Linked DNA regions of Homo sapiens. The protein of the gene in region 1 interacts with the protein of each later gene in a biochemical or structural test. Each region holds a gene or a part of one and is shown in the gene's direction. Other genes may lie near its edges. The genes, in order: STK33, USP5 and HPD.

Evidence for each region.
Region 2: the proteins of STK33 (region 1) and USP5 form a complex in vitro, tested with the Homo sapiens proteins (one study listed by BioGRID).
Region 3: of the proteins of STK33 (region 1) and HPD, one has a biochemical effect on the other in vitro, tested with the Homo sapiens proteins (one study listed by BioGRID).

What each region holds. Positions count from the first base shown.
Region 1 is NC_000011.10:8,471,570-8,480,318, reverse strand, and holds part of STK33 (serine/threonine-protein kinase 33), read left to right. Parts: exon of another isoform or gene 1-3,035; 5' UTR 3,036-3,069; exon of another isoform or gene 3,070-3,567; 5' UTR 3,568-3,632; intron 3,633-3,646; exon of another isoform or gene 3,647-4,219; intron 4,220-5,252; 5' UTR 5,253-5,413; coding exon 5,414-5,638; intron 5,639-7,042; coding exon 7,043-7,156; intron 7,157-8,749. UniProt on the Homo sapiens protein: Serine/threonine protein kinase required for spermatid differentiation and male fertility. Promotes sperm flagella assembly during spermatogenesis by mediating phosphorylation of fibrous sheath proteins AKAP3 and AKAP4.
Region 2 is NC_000012.12:6,861,516-6,868,247, forward strand, and holds the end of USP5 (ubiquitin carboxyl-terminal hydrolase 5), read left to right. Parts: coding exon 1-102; intron 103-954; coding exon 955-1,043; intron 1,044-1,629; exon of another isoform or gene 1,630-1,670; coding exon 1,671-1,862; intron 1,863-2,314; coding exon 2,315-2,458; intron 2,459-2,534; coding exon 2,535-2,680; intron 2,681-3,206; coding exon 3,207-3,360; intron 3,361-3,648; coding exon 3,649-3,733; intron 3,734-4,468; coding exon 4,469-4,562; 3' UTR 4,563-5,117; downstream 5,118-6,732. Other genes in the region: TPI1 (triosephosphate isomerase), read left to right, coding at 5,941-6,166. UniProt on the Homo sapiens protein: Deubiquitinating enzyme that participates in a wide range of cellular processes by specifically cleaving isopeptide bonds between ubiquitin and substrate proteins or ubiquitin itself.
Region 3 is NC_000012.12:121,838,067-121,842,648, reverse strand, and holds the end of HPD (4-hydroxyphenylpyruvate dioxygenase), read left to right. Parts: intron 1-2,600; coding exon 2,601-2,717; intron 2,718-2,810; coding exon 2,811-2,921; 3' UTR 2,922-3,122; downstream 3,123-4,582. UniProt on the Homo sapiens protein: Catalyzes the conversion of 4-hydroxyphenylpyruvic acid to homogentisic acid, one of the steps in tyrosine catabolism.

The sequences.
Region 1 (8,749 bases):
AGAAGGAACCTCAATACGTCCTAGTCTGTGCTTAAATTCCCCCATTGCTTCCCTTCTTCCACCTGATGCTCCAGCCTCTACTCAAACACTTGTAGTCCCTGAGATAGTCTTTCCTTTTATCTTTGACAGCTGTAAATGTCAGGAAGCCCTTTATATTAGATGGAAATCGGCACCCACTGTCTCTTCAAATCACGTAGAAGTCTAATCCCATATGCCTAATCCTCTTCAGAAATGTGAAGAGAGCTCTCACATTCCCTTTGAGATATCTCTTCTCCATATGATCCCCTCATTTCTTTGACGACTTTTCCAATATTCCTGCCTGTTTTTCTAACTAAATGATTTGTGATTCTGGCTCTTTTCCACAAAATCAACACTCAAAAATTTTCATTGAGTGCCTATTATGTATAAGGAAGGGCCTGTGCTGGAGAAAGGTCCTTGGCTTCTGGTTGCTTATTTTTTTATTTGTTATTTTTTTTGAGACAGAGTCTTACTCTGTCACCCAGGCTAGAGTGCAGTGGTGCGATCTCAGCTCACTGCAACCTCTGCCTCCTGGGTTCAAACGATTTTCCAACCTCAGCCTCCTGAGTAGCTGGGACTACAGGAGCACACCACCACGACTGGCTAATTTTTGTATTTTTTGTAGAGACGGGGTTTCACCATATTGGCCAGGCTGATCTCGAACTCCTGACTGCAAGTGATCGGCCTGCCTCCGCCTCCCAAAGTGTTGGGGTTATAGGCGTGAACCACTGTGCCTGGCCAGCTTCTGGTTGCTTATAATGGAGAGGGAGAAAAGACTGATATCAACAGGGAAGAATCAGGGAGAGGGTTTCCTGGTTTATCCACTGTCTCTAAACTGCAATTTCTGTTCTCGCTTTTTTTTTTTTTTTGAGACGGAGTCTAGCTCTGTTGCCAGGCTGGAGTGCAGTGGCATGATCTTGGCTCACTGCAATCTCCGCCTTCTGGGTTCAAGCGATTCTCCTGCCTCAGCCTCCCTAGTAGCCGGGATTACAGGTGCATGCCACCACACCCAGCTAATTTTTGTATTTTTAGTAGAGATGGGGTTTCTCTACTAAAACCCCAGGTTGGTCAGGATGTTGGCCAGGATGGTCTCGATCTGACCTTGTGATCCACCCGCCTCAGCCTGCCAAAGTGCTGGGATTACAGGCGTGAGCCACCGCACCCGGCCTCTGTTCTCGCTTTTAACTGTCAGTATAGGGGCCACATTTAAGACTGTCCTTCCGTATTACTGCTTAATCAGTGAGGAACATCATGCAAATTAAAATAGAAAGGAAAAGTTAATAGTAAACATCACTCAAACATTTAAAAAAATTCTGAAATAATGTGAATTTTAAATATACTGTAAATCCTTTTATAAGACAATACAGACTCATTTTCCTAATCATGCCCTTAATGAAAAGAATAAACAAGTGCTAGTCTTCCTTAAAATATAGCAATATCATCTAGAAAACTCACTGGGCCCTTCTTTAGGCTTTGTAAACATGTTACTAAAGCAGTCAGTCATTTGGCTTGGTCTGCAGAATGTCAGACAATTCGTAAGTTTTTTTTTTTTTCCCCTTTACTTGAATAAAACACATTTTGACTGAATTGACTATTTAGGTTTCTTGTAGACACAGTCTTAGCAAAGAAAACTAAAAAAATTGCTTTTGGAGAAGAAAATTATAGCTAGTTATATCTTATAAAACCATTCTTGTGTTCATTTTCTTGAGGAAATTGCTGTAAGTGTATCTTCTAGGGCCAATATGTAAAAGACCTTTTTATGATTAAATTAAAGCCCAGGGATTTTCATTATCAGAATTGTTTTATTGACTTGCCTTAGTTCTAAAAATAAAATGAAAACCTTAAGCCAAAGGAAGGCTCATGTATTAGTTAAGTACTGACATAATTTGAACTTATTTTATTTGCTTATATTATGTCCAGTACCTATGTATGTCCAATCTTTGGAGACACAAAGAAACATTATTGTATTAGAAGATTCTTTGGTTTTTGTAATACATATTTTTATATCTAAAGTCCTGTTTAAACATAATTCCATGATTCTATAGAAAAAGAGCTATTAATCTTTGTGTTTACATAAGTTTGCAATACTTGATTAATTTTAAGCCTCTAAAATATGAGTGACATCATTTGTCCTGTGAAATAGTAGATTTGTTTTAGTAACAAATCTTTCAGATCAATTCGTAAATGAGAAAGAAATAAATGTGAGTAAACATTTGTTCTATCTTGGTTTTTGTTTAAACTAAAATAATTAGAATTCAGCCAGCCAAAAAGAAGTTAAATTTGAAATCTAATTCTTGTCAAGAAATTTTGCATGCAGCTATTCAACCTGTTGTTTTAGAATTGCTGTGGTAAGAAAGTAGAACATTATTTTGGCAAATATAGCACTTGGTAGACTGGAGAGCAAAAATGAAACTTCTCAGTGAGTAATAGAAAGAAATCCTATGCTTTATGCATATAGCTACCAAGTACTTCTAAGGCAACTGATAAATTAGAAGACTGGAGCGAGAAAGTACTCAGAAGTCTGTGACAATGTCAGTGATATGATAATGACTTATTGAAAAATTGATGAAAATTAAAGGAAATGCTTTCTGAACAAAGCTAAGAAAAGAATAGCTGTTTTTAGATCCCCCAAAATCTATCTTAAAATGAAAATTTTAATATTTAAAGATTCCATTGAAAATTTGTGAATATATATATTTGTAAACCTTGAAGGATATGGTAAGTATGCTTTTAGGAGTACTGTTTATCATGAAAGAACTCAGCTGCAGTTAAATAAACCTGTACGTTACGAATACTTCTTACAATTTCTTATAAAAAGTACCATAAAATCAATATTCTTAATGTATGCAAAAAATGATGTTTTACACATCTGACATGGGACTTCTCTACACCTCAGAGAGAAAGCACTATTTTTCCCAAACAGAAAGCCTATCATTTGCAGATCTACTCCACTGCTCTGAGTCATTGATGGTTATGGGTTTTATATTTAACCTGAAATGCAAAACATTTTCTTCTAGGCCTGAAGTTAAATCATTTTGGAAAGTGATACAGGTACATTCTGAATTTTCTTTGTCTTGCTACATATTCTTGAAAAACCAGGTTAAGTGTTTATAAGAGATGTGTATGTGTGTGTGTGTGTGTGTGTGTGTGTGTGTGTGTGTATTTTGAGTGGCATCAGTTGCATTCTTTTCTTCCTCTGCCTGTCTGGAGGGCACTTTTAATGTACCTGTCCTCATACTCTCCATTATGAGTTTTAATCACAATAGAAATTTTTTTCCCACCACTTTGATGAAAGGTCATATTTATTGGGCAGACTTATCTATTCTATTTAATAATCTTATAATATACTATATACATTACCTGGGGTAAATGTAAGTACAGCATTTAGGATTTTAAAATCTATTTACAAATGAGACTGACCTGTAAATCCCCCTTTTGGGGAATACTACTATGGTCAGATTTTGGTTATTTTAAGTGAATAAAATGAACCGGATGGCTTTGCATGCTCTGAAACCATTTATATAAGAATCATCTGTTCAATAAAAGTAGGAGAGGACTCTGCTATGAAACTTCCTGAGTGAAATGATAAGTGGCATGAAGAAAAACAAAGCAAGGTAAGGGGGGAGAGGGCATGGGCTTGTTGTTTTAGATGAGGTGGTTAGGAAAGCCTTTCAAATGAGCAGAAGCCACAGTGAAGCATGGGAGCAGACCGTGTGAATGTTTGAGGGAAGAGCATCCCAGGCAGAGGAAGCAGAAGGGCAAAGCCTTGAGAAGGGAGTATACTTGGCATATTAGAGGAGCAGCAAGAGGCTACTGTATCTGAGAGAAAGGAGATATGAAAGCTGAGAGGTAGTGAAGAGTACGTTTATTTGGGACCGTATAGGCAAAATTCAACAAAATTTCTTTGTCATTTCTGTTTCTTAAGCTTACTCTTTAATTATGTTTTTCTATCTTTTAGATTTGACTGCACACTTAGTATATTTTTATCCTTTCTCCTCTGATTTTAATAAAGGTTTAAGAATATAAATTTTCTTTTAAGTGCAGCTTTGCCTGCATTCTGTTAAGCTTAATGGCCATAAGTCACATGGCTACCCCTAATCTAAAAGAGAAGCCCGGAAATGTAGGATGTTAATGAGCACATTGCTGCCCCAAAGAAGATCAGGATTCTGTTAGTAAGAAAGAATGAGAGGACAACTTTTAGGTAAACTACTAGCAATATCTTTTATAAAATCGTATGAGCCTGGCAGATTTTCCTGCCAATCACAATAGATAAGGATTTGATAAAAGCACAGCTTTCTGATTAGAAAACCAGGTATTTCTTTAATGAAATAAATATATTTAATTTCCTATTCTAGTCAAGTTTATTCCAGTTCAAAGGATAACAGTATATTGCATATATCCCCAGGTTTATCAATCTATGACTACAGAATCTACTTTTAAAGACTGTCTGAAATGGTATAGCATAAAACCATAATAATGTACTCCCAATTACTTCTGGAAGTTTCTCAAAGTACTCCTTTATATGTACTGCAGAGTGTATTTTTCTTCCTCCTCAACTGAGATCTTTCCAACTTGCCACCATGCAGCTGCCAATGGTCCTAGTTAAGTAAAATGCTGCCATACCTATTTTAGACTCAGGGAAAAATAGCACCCACTCATTTTTATTTTTGCTCAATATAAAAATGAGGATACTTATGAGGATACTTAAACTTTTAGGATTAGCTAGTTTTCTAAAAATCGAATTATTCACTCCTTTGTAAAGTATGTAATAGGAATTTGCTCTAATAATCAATAGATTAAGGTTTAAAATTTGAAACCATAGTAATGTATGTTTAACACCAATATTTTAAGCCTTTTTAAAAACCACAACCCACATTAAGAAATACATTTCATACTGTGATCAAGTACACACGCACACACACACTCTATACATATATGTCTGTCCAATTAAAAGTTTCACAGAAATTTCCAAGGAGGTATGCTAAATATTATCTCTTTGATTCTACTTTATTTTTAAAAAGTGGTATCAACCCACAAAATGGATTTCATAACCCACTACGCAGTTTGATAAGATGCTGTTTTAGACCATGCTTTTCACCAGTTTTGTGGTCCTATTTTGTCCTTTTCATGTCTATACAGGATGCTTCTAGTGCTAGTTGCTAGCTTTTCTCTGATTTCCAGGATGGTAATAGGTTAAGAATTTCTCTAAATGGTTATTTCTTTTCTTTCTGCAGCTCTCACGTGTGAATATGTGTCTAGTGCATCCTTAACCTGAGGACTTCACCAGTTCGAAATTACAGTTTTCACCATCAACTACCTTATCCTTTTTGGCCTGGTTTTCTTCCTCAAACAGTGGAAACATTTTTAAAGTTGCTTTTGTTGCAGAGTTAAACAAATGGCTGATAGTGGCTTAGATAAAAAATCCACAAAATGCCCCGACTGTTCATCTGCTTCTCAGAAAGATGTACTTTGTGTATGTTCCAGCAAAACAAGGGTTCCTCCAGTTTTGGTGGTGGAAATGTCACAGACATCAAGCATTGGTAGTGCAGAATCTTTAATTTCACTGGAGAGAAAAAAAGAAAAAAATATCAACAGAGATATAACCTCCAGGAAAGATTTGGTAAATATCAAAGATTCCACATCTAAGCACAAGTTGACATCCCGTTCCCTAATGGTACTCCTAGCTTCATCCATATCCCATGAGTTCTTGTTAGCTAATTCATTGCCTTCATAACTATTAAACATTTCTTTCTCACAGAAGAGGTGAGTAAATTTGGTTAGTAACTTGTTATATGATGTTTCAAACCACTGCCCAAATTAATTATTTCTCAGGACATGAGGTAATTAAACACGTTATACCAACTTCTTTTTTTAATGGTTTATACAGAAATGAATTGGTTTTCAAGTTGAATTAAATCTGAATTTTTGAGTATTTTCTTCAACTGATGGAGAATTAGATTTATAGTTGTGGTTAAGTAAAGGGTAGTTATGGCTTTGTTATTTAAGTTGTGGTTGTCTAGGTGGAATATCAACTATACTTTACAAAATCAGTTTGCATTAGTTACAAATAATCTATGGCTACCCAATTGTACTGATTTCGATGTATTCATCATTTTTTTTTTTTTGAATTGGAGTTTTGCTCTTGTTGCCCTGGCTGGAGTGCAATGGCACAATCTCAGCTCATCACAACCTCTGCCTCCTAGGTTCAAGTGATTTTCCTAGCTCAACCTCCTGAGTAGCTGAGATTACAGGAATGCACCACCATGCCCAGCTAATTTTTTTGTATTTTTAGTAGAGAGGGGGTTTCTCCATGTTGGTCAGGCTGGTCTTGAACTCCCGACCTCAGGTGATCCACCCACCTTGGCCTCCCAAAGTGCTGGGATTACAGGCATGAGCCACCGTGCCCAGCCATATTCATCTTTATATAGAATAGGCAGTGTGTAAGATTGTGGTTGATACAGCACAACTTTGGAGACAGAGCAATAAGCCTAAGAAAAGTCAGGTTCCCATTCCTCAAAATTTTGCCTTCTTCATATGTTCTCCCTTGACTGTTATTTCTGATTTGTATTATCATATAGTTACTGCCATATGGATGTATCTGAGTGAGTTGTTACTATGTTATTTTCACTCAAAGCATATTTTTGAGTGGCCAATAATTTACTTATAAGCTGTTTGATAATGGTTGTTAAATTGTGAAAGGAGAGTGATTGAGAAAGCTATAAAGTTGCTTTCTTTGATTTCAGAGAATCACTAGGTAAGCTTTGATGAATCTGCTATGCTGGTTATCATGTAGACTTTCCTGGATTCAGGGGATTGGATTGAATATCTTCTTAAGGTCTCCTTTAGCCTAATGAGCCAATGAATTGCATAGGGCTTAGAATTTGAAAAAGACAGTAAACAATCTTGTGCATAGTAAACATGGCACACGTTAAAGAGTTATCAGATTATCTAAATTAGGATTCTTTGTCAACAAAGAATATTACATCTTAAAGTTTTTTTTTTTTAATTTTTTTTTTGGTCCCAGCCCTCAAGAACCTCAAATGTAGAGAGAAAAGCATCTCAGCAACAATGGGGTCGGGGCAACTTTACAGAAGGAAAAGTTCCTCACATAAGGATTGAGAATGGAGCTGCTATTGAGGTATATAGAAAGCAAATGAAGCTACTGTGAACTTTCAGGTTTCTTCTAAGTCAATGGTTAATAGGAAAAATGATTGAAAAATAAATCTCTAAGGAAAGGAAGTAAAGAAAAGAGGAAATGTACCATTTTCAAGTATGTTAACATTTTTACTAAAGAAAATACAGATTAATTATCTTCTGTTTATGGAGGACCAAGTGGATTTTAATTAAAGTGGAGAACATTTTCATTAGCTAAAATGAGGATAGTTTCATCTTCAGGTCTTGGCCGTTGCTGAAAGCAATAGTGGAGTCTTTGTTTAGACCTTTTCATGATGCAGAGATGGACCAGGTAATTTTAGTTTGGCTGTTCACTTCCTTGATAGTGAGGCCAGAATCTCCCTCATGAGCTCCTCCATCTTTTCCATCCTGCGATTGGATAAATACCAATACTATTTTTCCAGGATTCAAATTATTATATAAAATAAGAATTAAATGTTAGAACAATAAAAAAATTAAAATGTGTGTTTTTAACATTAAAGAAACTGCAATAAGAACAACCACAACAAGAAGAAAATTGTGTTAATATTACCATTTAAATTGCTTTGGGGCACCACAAATTGCACCCATATAAGATGGTATACTTAATAAATGTATATGTTCTGATTGCTCAGCTGACTGACCACTCTTCATCTCTCTCCCTCTCCTTGGGCCTCCCTAGTCCCTGATACACAAAAATATTGAAATTAGGCCAATTAATAATCCTACAGTGGTTCAAGTGAAAGGGAGAGTTGCATGTCTTTCACTTTAAATCAAAAGCTAGAAATGATCAAGCCTGATGTCAAAACTTGTTTTAAAAGATATTTGGCAACTTACTTGAAATGATTAGAAAAGCTGCCTGGCCTGAAAAACTCTGACACACACACACACAAGTTTACCAAGTTTTAAATTTAGTCTTGGGCCAGGCATGATGGCTCATGCCTGTAATCTCAGCATTTTGAAAGGCTGAGGAAGGAGGATCACTTGAGGCCAAGAGTTTGAGACCAGACTGGGCAACATAGCAAAACTCCTTCTCTAAAAAAATTTTTAAAAAATTAGCAGGATATAGAGGCATTCGGCTGTAGTCCTGGCTACTGTGGGGTGCTGAGATGTGAGTATCACTTGAGCCCAGAAGTTTGAGGCTGCAGTGAGCTATGATCATACCACTGCATTCTAGCCTGGGCGACAGAGTGAGACCTTGTCTCCAAAAACAGTAAAATAAATAAATAATAAATTTAGTCTTAAGAGCTTTTATAAAAGCAAAATATGTTCATTGTGAAAAATTAGGCAAATATAAGTGTGGAGAAAATAAAAATTATCAACCAGATATAACCAATTTAAAAATTATTAACTTCACTTTTTCTATGCATGTACTAGTTTTATTTTATTTTTCTTTAACATTTTTCCTGTTTTAAATTAGAGGATATTTCAAATATATATACATATTTTAAAGAAGTAACTTTAACTTGGTATAGTTGAAGTTGAAGCTTCTATTCCCCCATAAAATATACTCATTTTAAATATTTTAAACATTTCAGAAGAGTATAAAGAAGGAAATTACAAGCATCCACAATTCTAT
Region 2 (6,732 bases), on another chromosome or scaffold:
GGCCCAGGTGCCCTTCAGCTCTTGCCTGGAGGCCTACGGGGCCCCTGAGCAGGTCGATGACTTCTGGAGCACGGCCCTGCAGGCCAAGTCAGTAGCTGTCAAGTAAGTCCTCTGGTCGGGGCCTGAGGCTGTGGGTCTATGGCAGAGCTATCCCAGAGGATACTTCTGTCTCTTCCCTGTTCTTTCATCCCTTTGTGGTTGGAACCTCAGGGTTGAATCAGTTGGGCTGGTAATCTGGCCCTGATGGAACCAAGGGGCCCTGGTAGGGGGGACACGGGTACTGACTCTATCTGTCACCTTGTCCTGCCCCAACCACTCCCTCTTCTGTGGCACAGGGTCTCTTTGTAGTGTAGCCTCTCTTCATTGCCCCTCAGTCATGGCTGAGCACAGGCACTTAGGATCAGCTGTGGGCAGAATTTGGATTTCCAGCAAATAGCCACACTTTGAGCCTAGCCATTGGCACCTGGCATGGGTGTGAGACCTGAAAAAGGGCTTTGGTCTCGGGGAGTCAGCTACCCAGCCCTTTGCTGCTCCTGCCAGTGAAACAGCTCTTCCTCTCTGTGTGGGTTTTTTTTTTTTTTCTATGTGTGGGTCTTGCTATGTTTTTTTCCCTACGTGTGGGTCTTGCTATGTTGCCCAGGTTGGTCTCTTAACTCCTGGGCTCAAGCAGTCGTCCTGCCTTGGCCTCCCAAAGTGCTGGAATTACAGATATGAGCCACCATGCCTGGGCTTTTTTCTTTTTCTTTTTTTTGTTGACAGCCTTCCTTCTGGCCTCTACTGCTCCTCGTTGGCCGAGGACAGGCATCAGACACCTGCCCAGGGGAAGAGAAGAATATGGAGGATCTTCTGGGTTATTGGGACTTCTACCCATGAGGGGCTGAACCCCAGGTGGGAGTTTCAGGAGAGGAAAACCCTGGGGATTGTCTGGGTACCAGCACAGTCTCTCTTCCCTAGGACCACACGATTTGCCTCATTCCCTGACTACCTGGTCATCCAGATCAAGAAGTTCACCTTCGGCTTAGACTGGGTGCCCAAGAAACTGGGTATGGCTGCTGGAATGAGGGAGGTTACACAGAAAATGCTAGAAAAAGAAGGGGCTTTAACACATATAAACTAGTGTTTCTCAAAGTTTCCTCTGAAAGAGGAAAAAAAATCACCTTCAATGTTTCAAAATTTATCTAGTTTGAAAGCACTAACTAAAAATATTAAAAGACTTCTTTGATTGTTATAGGTATGATTTACAACCAAAAGTGATTTTTGTAGTTTTTTAAAATAATTGGTAAAATGTTTTCATTTTGATAATCTTGAAACAATTAATTCTCGTGAGTCTTACAGGTCCCTGACTGTCATTTGAGAACTCGTGATGTACCTTCATTTTCTAGATAAGGAAGTTGAGACTCACAGGAATATAAAATCATTCTGTCTCACAAGTTCTAGGCCCCCTGCCCTGTCCATAGATTATTTATGGTAGATCTAGGACCAGCATCCTGGCCTCCCAACTCCCAGGCTTAGTATTATTTGTCTTATACTGGGACCCCTAAGATGGGTGCCGTGCTTTTAGCAGCTCCTCTTTACAGAGCAGTTCTGACATAGGGGGCAGGGGATTGAGGTTCCCGAATCACTTTCCAGGTAGGCCTCCGGGAGCTGCTGAGGTGACCCTTTTCCCACAGATGTGTCCATCGAGATGCCAGAGGAGCTCGACATCTCCCAGTTGAGGGGCACAGGGCTGCAGCCCGGAGAGGAGGAGCTGCCAGACATTGCCCCACCCCTGGTCACTCCGGATGAGCCCAAAGGTAGCCTTGGTTTCTATGGCAACGAAGACGAAGACTCCTTCTGCTCCCCTCACTTCTCCTCTCCGACATGTTAGTGACTCTTCTTCCTGCCTGTCTCTCTCCCGTGCTGATGGGGGCCTCTCTGCCTTGCATCCCCTGCCCCTGTCCTTTGTGTTTCTCCTGTCCTCCCTTTCAAATTTCCTCTGCCCTCTTTGATTGACATGGGGCCTCCCCAGCGCACTCCTAGCCACCTTCTGGGTGTGGATGGCAGCAGTGCCAGCTAGTGGCCTCTCTGCCCTTGTTACCTCCCTGGTTTGGGTAGGGTGGGGGTATCATGCTCCAGAAACAGGGCCCATTCTGTGAGAATGGGCAGGGACCCACATTACAATTGTGTGGTCATTTTGGTTTTGGGATAAGGTGCCAATCCATGGGAGAAAAATGCATGGAATGGGTGATTGGAAGAGGGCTGGGTCCTGGGGGAGGGAGGAGGAGCAAACAGTGGCCCAATCAGTCGGTCCGTGTACCCACAATTCCCATTACAGCGCCCATGCTGGATGAATCAGTCATCATCCAGCTGGTGGAGATGGGATTCCCTATGGACGCCTGCCGCAAAGCTGTCTACTACACGGGCAACAGCGGGGCTGAGGCCGCCATGAACTGGGTCATGTCACACATGGATGATCCAGGTAGGCTGGGGTGGGGAGCAGGGTGGGGCAGGGCCTCCATCCTCCCCCAAACACATCAACCCCTTCACATCCACAGATTTTGCAAACCCCCTCATCCTGCCTGGCTCTAGTGGGCCGGGCTCCACAAGCGCAGCAGCCGACCCCCCTCCTGAGGACTGTGTGACCACCATTGTCTCCATGGGCTTCTCCCGGGACCAGGCCTTGAAAGCGCTGCGGGCCACGGTATGGGCTGCCCCAGCTAAGGACATGGGGCCAGTGGGGAAGAAGGGGGTGGGAATGAGGGGCCATCCTTCTTGAGCAAGACCAAAGACAACAGGTGTGGTCTGGCCGAGGTTGGGCACCACTCTTTTGTGGCTGCGATGAAGGAGCTGAAGCCTGCGTTCACTGCTGGGTTTTTTGCCCCAGAACTTGTTAAAAATGTAATGCTTCTGTTTGGCCGGGCGCGGTGGCTCACGCCTGTAATCCCAGCACTTTGGGAGGGTGAGGTGGGCGGATCACGCGGTCAGCAGATCAAGACCATCCTGGCTAACACGGTGAAACCCCGTCTCTACGAAAAATACAAAAAATTAACCAAGCGTGGTGGTGGGCGTCTGTAGTCCCAGCTACTTGGGAGGCTGAGGCAGGAGAAAGGCGTGAACCCGGGAGGCGGAGCTTGCAGTGAGCCGAGATCGCGCCACTGCACTCCAGCCTGGGCGACAGAGCAAGACTCCGTCTCAAGAAAAAAAGTAATGCTTCCTTCCTCTCCAAGAACAATAGTTTAGAACGGGCTGTGGACTGGATCTTCAGTCACATTGACGACCTGGATGCTGAAGCTGCCATGGACATCTCAGAGGGCCGCTCAGCTGCCGACTCCATCTCTGAGTCTGTGCCAGTGGGACCTAAAGTCCGGGATGGTCCTGGAAGTGAGTATCCCCAGGAAGCAGGACAGGCCTGGTGGAATCTGGTCAGTCTACTACACCAGATCCCTCATTCAGGCAGCTCTGCCCTCCTCAGGAGTCAGGGGCTTCTTTCCACCTCAACGTGGCATCTGAGGGTGGGGTTCTCTGACATGGAGACAGGCTCTGGCCCAGTACCTGCCTCACATTCCCTGAAACTCCTGTCCTGAGTCTGAGCTGTTGTCTGGATCTTTGGGCCATCACTCAAGCATTCCTCTTCTGTTTCCTTCTCTGACCCCCTCTCTCCTTTCCTAGAGTATCAGCTCTTTGCCTTCATTAGTCACATGGGCACCTCTACCATGTGTGGTCACTACGTCTGCCACATCAAGAAAGAAGGCAGGTGAGTGCTGGCCACATGCGTTTTGAATGGAGAATGGTGGTGGGAATGAGGAGGGCCATTTGGAAGTCCTTGGGATAGCTATGGGAGAAGGTGAAGGGACTGCCTGATGGGGACATAAAGTGCCAGAGAGTGACAGAAGGTCTTGCAGCAGTGATTGGCCCAAGGGTTGGATCTGGCCACCAGCTTTTTTTTTAAATAGAGATGGGATCTCACTATGTTGCCCAGGCTGGTCTTGAACTCCTGAGCTCAAGTGATCCTTCTGCCTCGGCCTCCCAAAGTGCTAGGATTACAGGCATGAGCTACCGTGCCTGGCCAGGCCCCCTGCCTTTGTAAATAAATTTTCACTGGAACCTGGACACACTTGTTTATGTGTTGTTTGTGCCTGTTTTCACGCTGCGGCAGGAAAGTTGAGTCGTTGTGTCAGAGACCAGAGAGAGAGCCTGCAGAACCTCAAATACTATCTGGCCCTTGCCAGAAAAAGTTTACCAACCCCCTGCCTCCCTGGAATGGGTGGAGGGTGGTTGTAAAGGTACTGGAGGATCTGAAGACATAATAGGGTCCGTGACCCTTGTGAGGTTGTGAAGCTCCCTTAAGGCACATGGTGGCTGGGCTGTGGATTTGGGGTATGGGCAGAGAGTGTGGAGAGCACTTCCAGGGGCCATGTCTGAGAGACTACATGATGCCACTTTGAATGCCCAGTTTGTTCATCCTTTTCTGTTTTCCCCACTTCCCCAGATGGGTGATCTACAATGACCAGAAAGTGTGTGCCTCCGAGAAGCCGCCCAAGGACCTGGGCTACATCTACTTCTACCAGAGAGTGGCCAGCTAAGAGCCTGCCTCACCCCTTACCAATGAGGGCAGGGGAAGACCACCTGGCATGAGGGAGAGGGGCTGAGGGATGGACTTCAGCCCCTCTGCTCTGTACCCTTTTTCCTTTTGTCCCCGGCAGCAGGGAAGAAGCTGGAGGCCGTGGGAGAATGGCTGGGCAGAGCAGAGGGGCAGCGATAGACTCTGGGGATGGAGCAGGACGGGGACGGGAGGGGCCGGCCACCTGTCTGTAAGGAGACTTTGTTGCTTCCCCTGCCCCCGGAATCCACAGTGCTCTGCTTCTCTGTGTCGCCCCGCCCAGCCCCCTGGTGTGGAGGGAGGGGTCTCGTTTGTGCGCGTGGGTGTAGCTTTGTGCATCCTCTCCCAGTGGAGCGATCACCTGTGCCTCCCCTCCCCCTTTGTTTGCCCCTGTGTGGTTGGTCAAGGAGGGATGTGAGGGAAATAGGGACCCCCCGACTTGCCCTCCTGCCTCAGTCTTTCCCCCACCCTGTCTCTTCCTTGTCCTTCTCTGGAAAATGCCAAAATACACGATGTGAATAAAAGTACAACGGCTAAATTGTGTCCTGTTTGATACCTTGGGGGAGAGGCTTACCTTCCTGGGGTTAGCAGGAGGGCGCTTAAGAAAACTCCTAACTCTGGCCGCCTCCCTGCCAAAGTCAAGTCTCCACTTTTCACTGGTTCTAGAGCTCTAGGAAAATTGGGGTTGGGTGGGGAGGTGGAGTAGAGTGACTAAATGCCGACACAAAGCCAAGGAAAGATGGAGTGAAGAACCCTTCCCTCTCTTTATTCACACAGGAGTGGAGGATTTCCCAAATGTCCCTAACTGGCTAGCTGGCTTCAGGCTGGGACTCAGTCCCTGCAGTTCCTGCCAGGCCTTGCCAGCCGGGGCGAGGGTTGGGATGATCCTGGCGGCCTATGCCTGTGTGGGCTGCCCCTCCCGCTGTGAACCCTGCATTTGTCCCGCAAGTTTTCACTCAGGTAGACTCCCTGGGTACAAGGGTGCCTGCTCAGCAGTCGGGCATGAGCTGCTCCGATGGGCGAAGGAGGTTGTCTATCCCACAGTTGGAGAGGGGCCCTCTCTGCCCCAGTGGGCGATCTGGGCTACGGCCAAGTTGCCACCAGCTAGTTCCGCTTGAAAACCACTTCTGGCCCCGTGGGGGACTCAAGTCGCCAAGCGAGGGTTCCCCTGAGCGCCGGAGCTCACAGGTCTCGCCTTGTCCCGAAAGCCCCGCAATCGAGGCGGAGGCGACCGAGCCCCCGACTCTCCTAGAACGTTGCCACAAGAAGGGGGAACGTCGGAACAGTGCATCATCGGGCGGCGGCCGGGGCGGCGGCAGGAGGGCGGGCGGGGGGCAGGGCTCCGGGGGACTGGGCGGGCCATGGCGGAGGACGGCGAGGAGGCGGAGTTCCACTTCGCGGCGCTCTATATAAGTGGGCAGTGGCCGCGACTGCGCGCAGACACTGACCTTCAGCGCCTCGGCTCCAGCGCCATGGCGCCCTCCAGGAAGTTCTTCGTTGGGGGAAACTGGAAGATGAACGGGCGGAAGCAGAGTCTGGGGGAGCTCATCGGCACTCTGAACGCGGCCAAGGTGCCGGCCGACACCGGTAAGCCCTCGCCGAGGAGGGGTCTGGCCGGGCCGGGGCCGGGGCCGGGGCAGGAGTGGCAGCGCCCTCTCCCGAGGCCCCGAGGCCCCGAGGCCGGTATCCGCGCGGACCTGATGCAGGGCTGTGGGACGAGGGCCGCTGGGGTCCGGGCAGGGGCCTCGCAGCCGCAGCCCCGTCGGTGCGTCGAGGGGGCAGGGCGGAGCACATGATGCCCCTTGGACTATGGGGCAGGTAAGGACGTTTTGGGTCTCCTGGAGGAAGGTGGCCCCGGGGCGCGCACTGGGGCTGTGCCCGCCAGGCGACGGGGTTAGGAGCGGAGCCCGAGGCTCTGCGGGAGACCGGGGGAGGCTGGGCCGCGTGGGCTTCCCGCTCCCTGCGCCCTGGCCTCCCGCGCCGTGCGCCGCCGCACGTAGCCCCAGACTCCTCCCCTTCCTCGCCGGCGTCCGCGTCCCCGCGCCGAGCTGCTCGGGCTCCCTGAGCCCCAGATCTGACCCCTTCCCTTCGGCAACCTGAACGACTCCCGCCTTCCACGGAAGGGACCGAGCCCGTGCCAAACAGGCTGAGCG
Region 3 (4,582 bases), on another chromosome or scaffold:
AGACCAGCCTGGTCAATATGGCGAAACCCCCATCTCTACAAAAAGAAAAAAAAAAATTAGCTGTGCGTGGTGATCTGTGTCTGTGGTCCCAGCTACTGGGGAGGCTGAAGTGGGAGAATCACTTCAACCCAGGAGGTAGAGGCTACAGTGAGCCATCATCAGGCCACTGCACTCCAGCCTGGGTGATACCCTGTCTAAAAGAAAAACAAAAACAGTTAGGCCAGACACAGTGGCTCACACCTATAATCCCAGCATTTTGGGAGGTTGAAGTGAGAGGATTGCTTGAGGCCAGGAGTTTAAGACCAGCCTGAGAAACACAGGGCGACCCTGTATCTACAAAAAAAACAGTTTTAAAAAATTAGCTGGGCATGGTGGTTCGTGCCTGTAGTCCCAGCTACTCAGGAGGCTGAGGTGAGAGGATCACTTGAGGCCAGGAGGTCAAAGCTGCAGTGAGCCATGATCAGGCTACTGCATTCCAGCCTGGGCAAAAAATCAATTTTAGAACATTTTTGTCACCCCAAAAAGAAACCTTGAGCCTCTTAGCCAGCACCTCCCAACCCCCTCTGTTCCCTTCCCCCCTCCCACCCCAGCCCTAGGCACCATTAATCTACCTTCAGTCTCTATAGATTTGCCTATTCTGGACATTTCATCAAAAGGAATCACAAAGTCCAGGCACGGTGGCTCATGCCTGTAATCCCAGCACTTTGGGAGGCTGAGGTGGGCGGATCATGAGGTCAGGAGTTCAAGACCAGCCTGGCCAACATGGTGAAACCCTGTCTCTACTAAAAATACAAAAATTAGCTGGGTGTGATAGCAGATGCCTGTAATCCCAGCTACTGGGGAGCCTGAGGCCGGAGAATTGCTTGAACCCAGGGAAGGGGAGGTTGCAGTGAGCCGAGATCGCGCCATTGCACTCCAGCCTGGGCGACAGAGTGAAACTCCATCTCGGAAAAAAAAAAAAAGGAATCACAAAATAGGCCTATTGTGAGCAGCTTCTTTCCCATAGCATGTGCTCAAGGTTCATCTGCGTGGGGTGTGTGTCAGTGCTTCGTTCCTTTTTGTGGCTGAAAAATATCCCATTGTATAGATAGACACACATTGTTTATCTATTCCTCGTTGATAGATATTTGGGTTGTTTCCACTTTTGGGGTGTTATACGTAATGCTACTGTGAACATCTATGTACAAGGCTCTGTGTGGACGTGTTTTCAATGCACTTTGGAATATATCTAGGAGTAGCTAGGTCACATGGTAATTCCATGTTCCCTTTTGTTTGTTTAGAGATGGAGTCTTGCTTTGTTTCCCAGGCTGGGGTGCAGTGGTGCGATCTTGGCCCATTGCAACCTCCAGCCTCCTGGGTTCAAGCAATTCTCCTGCCTCAGCCTCCCCAGTAGCTGGGATTATAGGCGCCCGCCACCACGCCCAGCTAATTTTTTTTTTTTTTTTTTTGAGACAGAGTCTTGCTCTGTTGCCCAGGCTGGAGAGCAGTGGCCGATCTTGGCTCACTGCAACCTCCACTTCCCGGGTTCAAGCGATTCTCCTGCCTCTGCCTCCTGAGTAGCTGGGATAACAGGCGTGTGCCACCATGCCCAGCCAATTTATTTTTATTTTTATTTTTAGTAGAGATGGGGTTTCACCATGTTGGCCAGGCTGGTCTCGAACTCCTGACCTCGGGTGATTCACTCACCTCAGCCTCCCAGAGTGCTGGGATTACAGGCGTGAGCCACCTTGCCCAGCCTAATTTTTGTATTTTTTTTTGTAGTGACTGGGTTTCCCCATGTTGGCCAGGCTGGTCTCGAACTGAGCTCAGGTGATCCACCTGCCTCGGCCTCCCAAAGTGAGCCACCATGCCTGGCCACCCCCTTTTTTTTTTTTAATCCGTATTTTAAGGAAGCAACACTATATGTTTAACTTTTTGAGAAGCTGCCAGACTGTTTTCCAAAGTGGTTGCACCATTTTACAGTCCCACCAGCAGTACATGAGGGTTCCGATTTCCACTGGAGGATTTTAAACAGGGGAATGACATGATCCGACTTTTAAAAGATCCCGCAGCAGGTCATGGTGGCTCACGCCTGTAATCCCAACACTTTGGGAGGTCGAGGTGGGTGGATCACCTGAGGTCAGGAGTTCGAGACCAGCCTGACCAATATCGTGAAACCCCGTCTTACTAAAAATACAAAAATTAGCCGGGCATGGTAGCCTGCGCCTGTAGTCCCAGCTACTCGGGAGGCTGAGACAGGAGAATCGCTTGAACCCGGAAGGCGGAGGTTTCAGTGAGCCAAGATTGCGCCACCGCACTCCAGCCTGGGTAACAGCGCAAGGCTCCGTCTCAAAAAAGAAAAAGAAAGTGTCCTGATAATGTCTGCGGGGAGGATGGATTGTAAGGATACAAGATTAGAAGCGGGCAGCAGTCTTGAATGGTGCCTTAGGAACTGTAGTAGGGGGATAGTAATAGGACAGTTTGGGGATATATTTGGAGGTGGCTGAACTGCCAGAAAAAGAGGTCATTTCCAGACTTTTGGGGTGCAGGAGCCCCTGTGGACTTTCCAAGGATCTCACCGTGCCAGCCTCCCCTAGCAGAGCCCCCTGTCTCCCGCCTAGGAGCTGAAAATCCTGGTGGACTACGACGAGAAAGGCTACCTCCTGCAGATCTTCACCAAACCGGTGCAGGACCGGCCCACGCTCTTCCTGGAAGTCATCCAGCGCCACAACCACCAGGTACTGCTTGTCCCCGGCAGGCCCGAGGGGACAGGCAGCTAGCACACTCGGTTTTCTGGGTCCTTGGCTCATCTCCTCTCTTTCCCGCCACAGGGTTTTGGAGCCGGCAACTTCAACTCACTGTTCAAGGCTTTCGAGGAGGAGCAGAACCTGCGGGGTAACCTCACCAACATGGAGACCAATGGGGTGGTGCCCGGCATGTAAGCCCCGCCCACCCCACGGAGGCCACAGCCACACAGCCACGCCCCCTGATTCTGGAACTCGCCCAACTTCCCTACTGGCTGCTCCCCTTGGGTCCCGCCCACCAGCGGACTCGGCCCCCAAGGCTCCGCCCACACTGACCACGCCCCTCGGCGGGGCCGCCCTCTGCTCCAGCCCTCCCGATTAAAGCGTGCCCCGGTCCAATACTGTGTCTGTGTTTGTGTTGCGCATAAGGCAGTAGTGCCTTATGGCAGCCAGGGGGAGGCCAGGGCGGCCGCCAGCGCCGCGGGACCGAGGAGCTGCGGGTGCCAGCGCTTTGCCAGCGGGACCACGCGGAGAGGGGAATTCTGGAACCAGGGAAGGAAGGGGACTTGCTCTGGAGGGAAAGACGGATGACACTGCTTTTGTAGAGAGATAAACGCGATTCAGACAATAAAGCAAGCGATGAGCCGGGCGTGGTGGCTCACACCTGTAATTTCAGCGCTTTGGGAGGCAGAGGTGGGAGGATCGCTTGAGGCCAGGAGTTCGAGCCCAGCCCGGTAACATAGCAAGACCCCGACCCCCCTGCGTCTACACAAATAACAAATAAAAATTAGCCTGGCGTAGTGGCGCACACCTGTGGTCCCAGCTACTCAGGAGGCTGAGGTGGGAGGATCGATTGATGGACAGAGGTCTAAGCTGCAGCGAGCCCTGATCCTGACACTGCACTCCAGCCTGGGCAAGAGTGAGACCCTGTCTCAAAAAAAAAAAAGGCAGTTGATGAGAATATGTGGAAGCGAAGATCGCAGGGGAGCTAATTTTGATAACGGAAGACCTCTCCGAGAAGGTGACATTTGGGAGCCAGCCATGGGACCATGCTCGGGAAAAGGATTCCAGGAAGAGCGAACGGAGAAAGGCCCTGAGGTGGGGTCAGAGTTTGGCAGCATCTTGTCTGCCGGCTTGATGATCTCTTTTTGTTGTTGTTGAGACGGAGTTTCGCTCTGTCCCCCAGGCTGGAGTGCAGTGGTGCGATCTCGGCTCACTGCAAGCTCCGCCTCCCGGGTTCACGCCATTCTCCTGCCTCAGCCTCCCGAGTAGCTGGGACTACAGGCGCCCGCCACCACGCCCGGCTAATTTTTTGTATTTTTAGCAGAGACGGAGTTTCACCTTGTTAGCCAGGATGGTCTCGGCCTCCCAAAGTGCTGGGATTACAGGCGTGAGCCACCGCGCCCGGCCGATGATCTCTAAAGATGAGCTGTCTTCAGTTTTGCTACCCAGAGCCCAAACCTCTGAACACAGGAGAGGGGAGAGTGTTAGACAAGGGACTCTAGGGGCAGCATCCCTGCTCATCAACTGTAGGATATGGTCCCTTGGTTCCTGGTCTCAGAGATAAAGCAGGTAGGAGGGGCCTGGTATCCCAGTCCCTGCCCTCAGCAGGGCAGTGCCCATGACCACCCACGCAGCTGCACTGCCCCAGCCTTGCCCGCAGTGAGGACTTCTTTTGGAAAGGGGCTTGTTCATACTCATAGAAGAGTGAGTGATCCTTGCAAAAGAATGAGGCAGCTGGGTCCTAAAACCCTAGGAAGGAGATTCTTTCTTCAAAACCAGGTAAGAGTTGGTGGTGGGCAAATTTGGCCTCTTTTTTTTTTCTTTTTCTCTCTTTTTTTTTTTTTTTTAGACAGAGT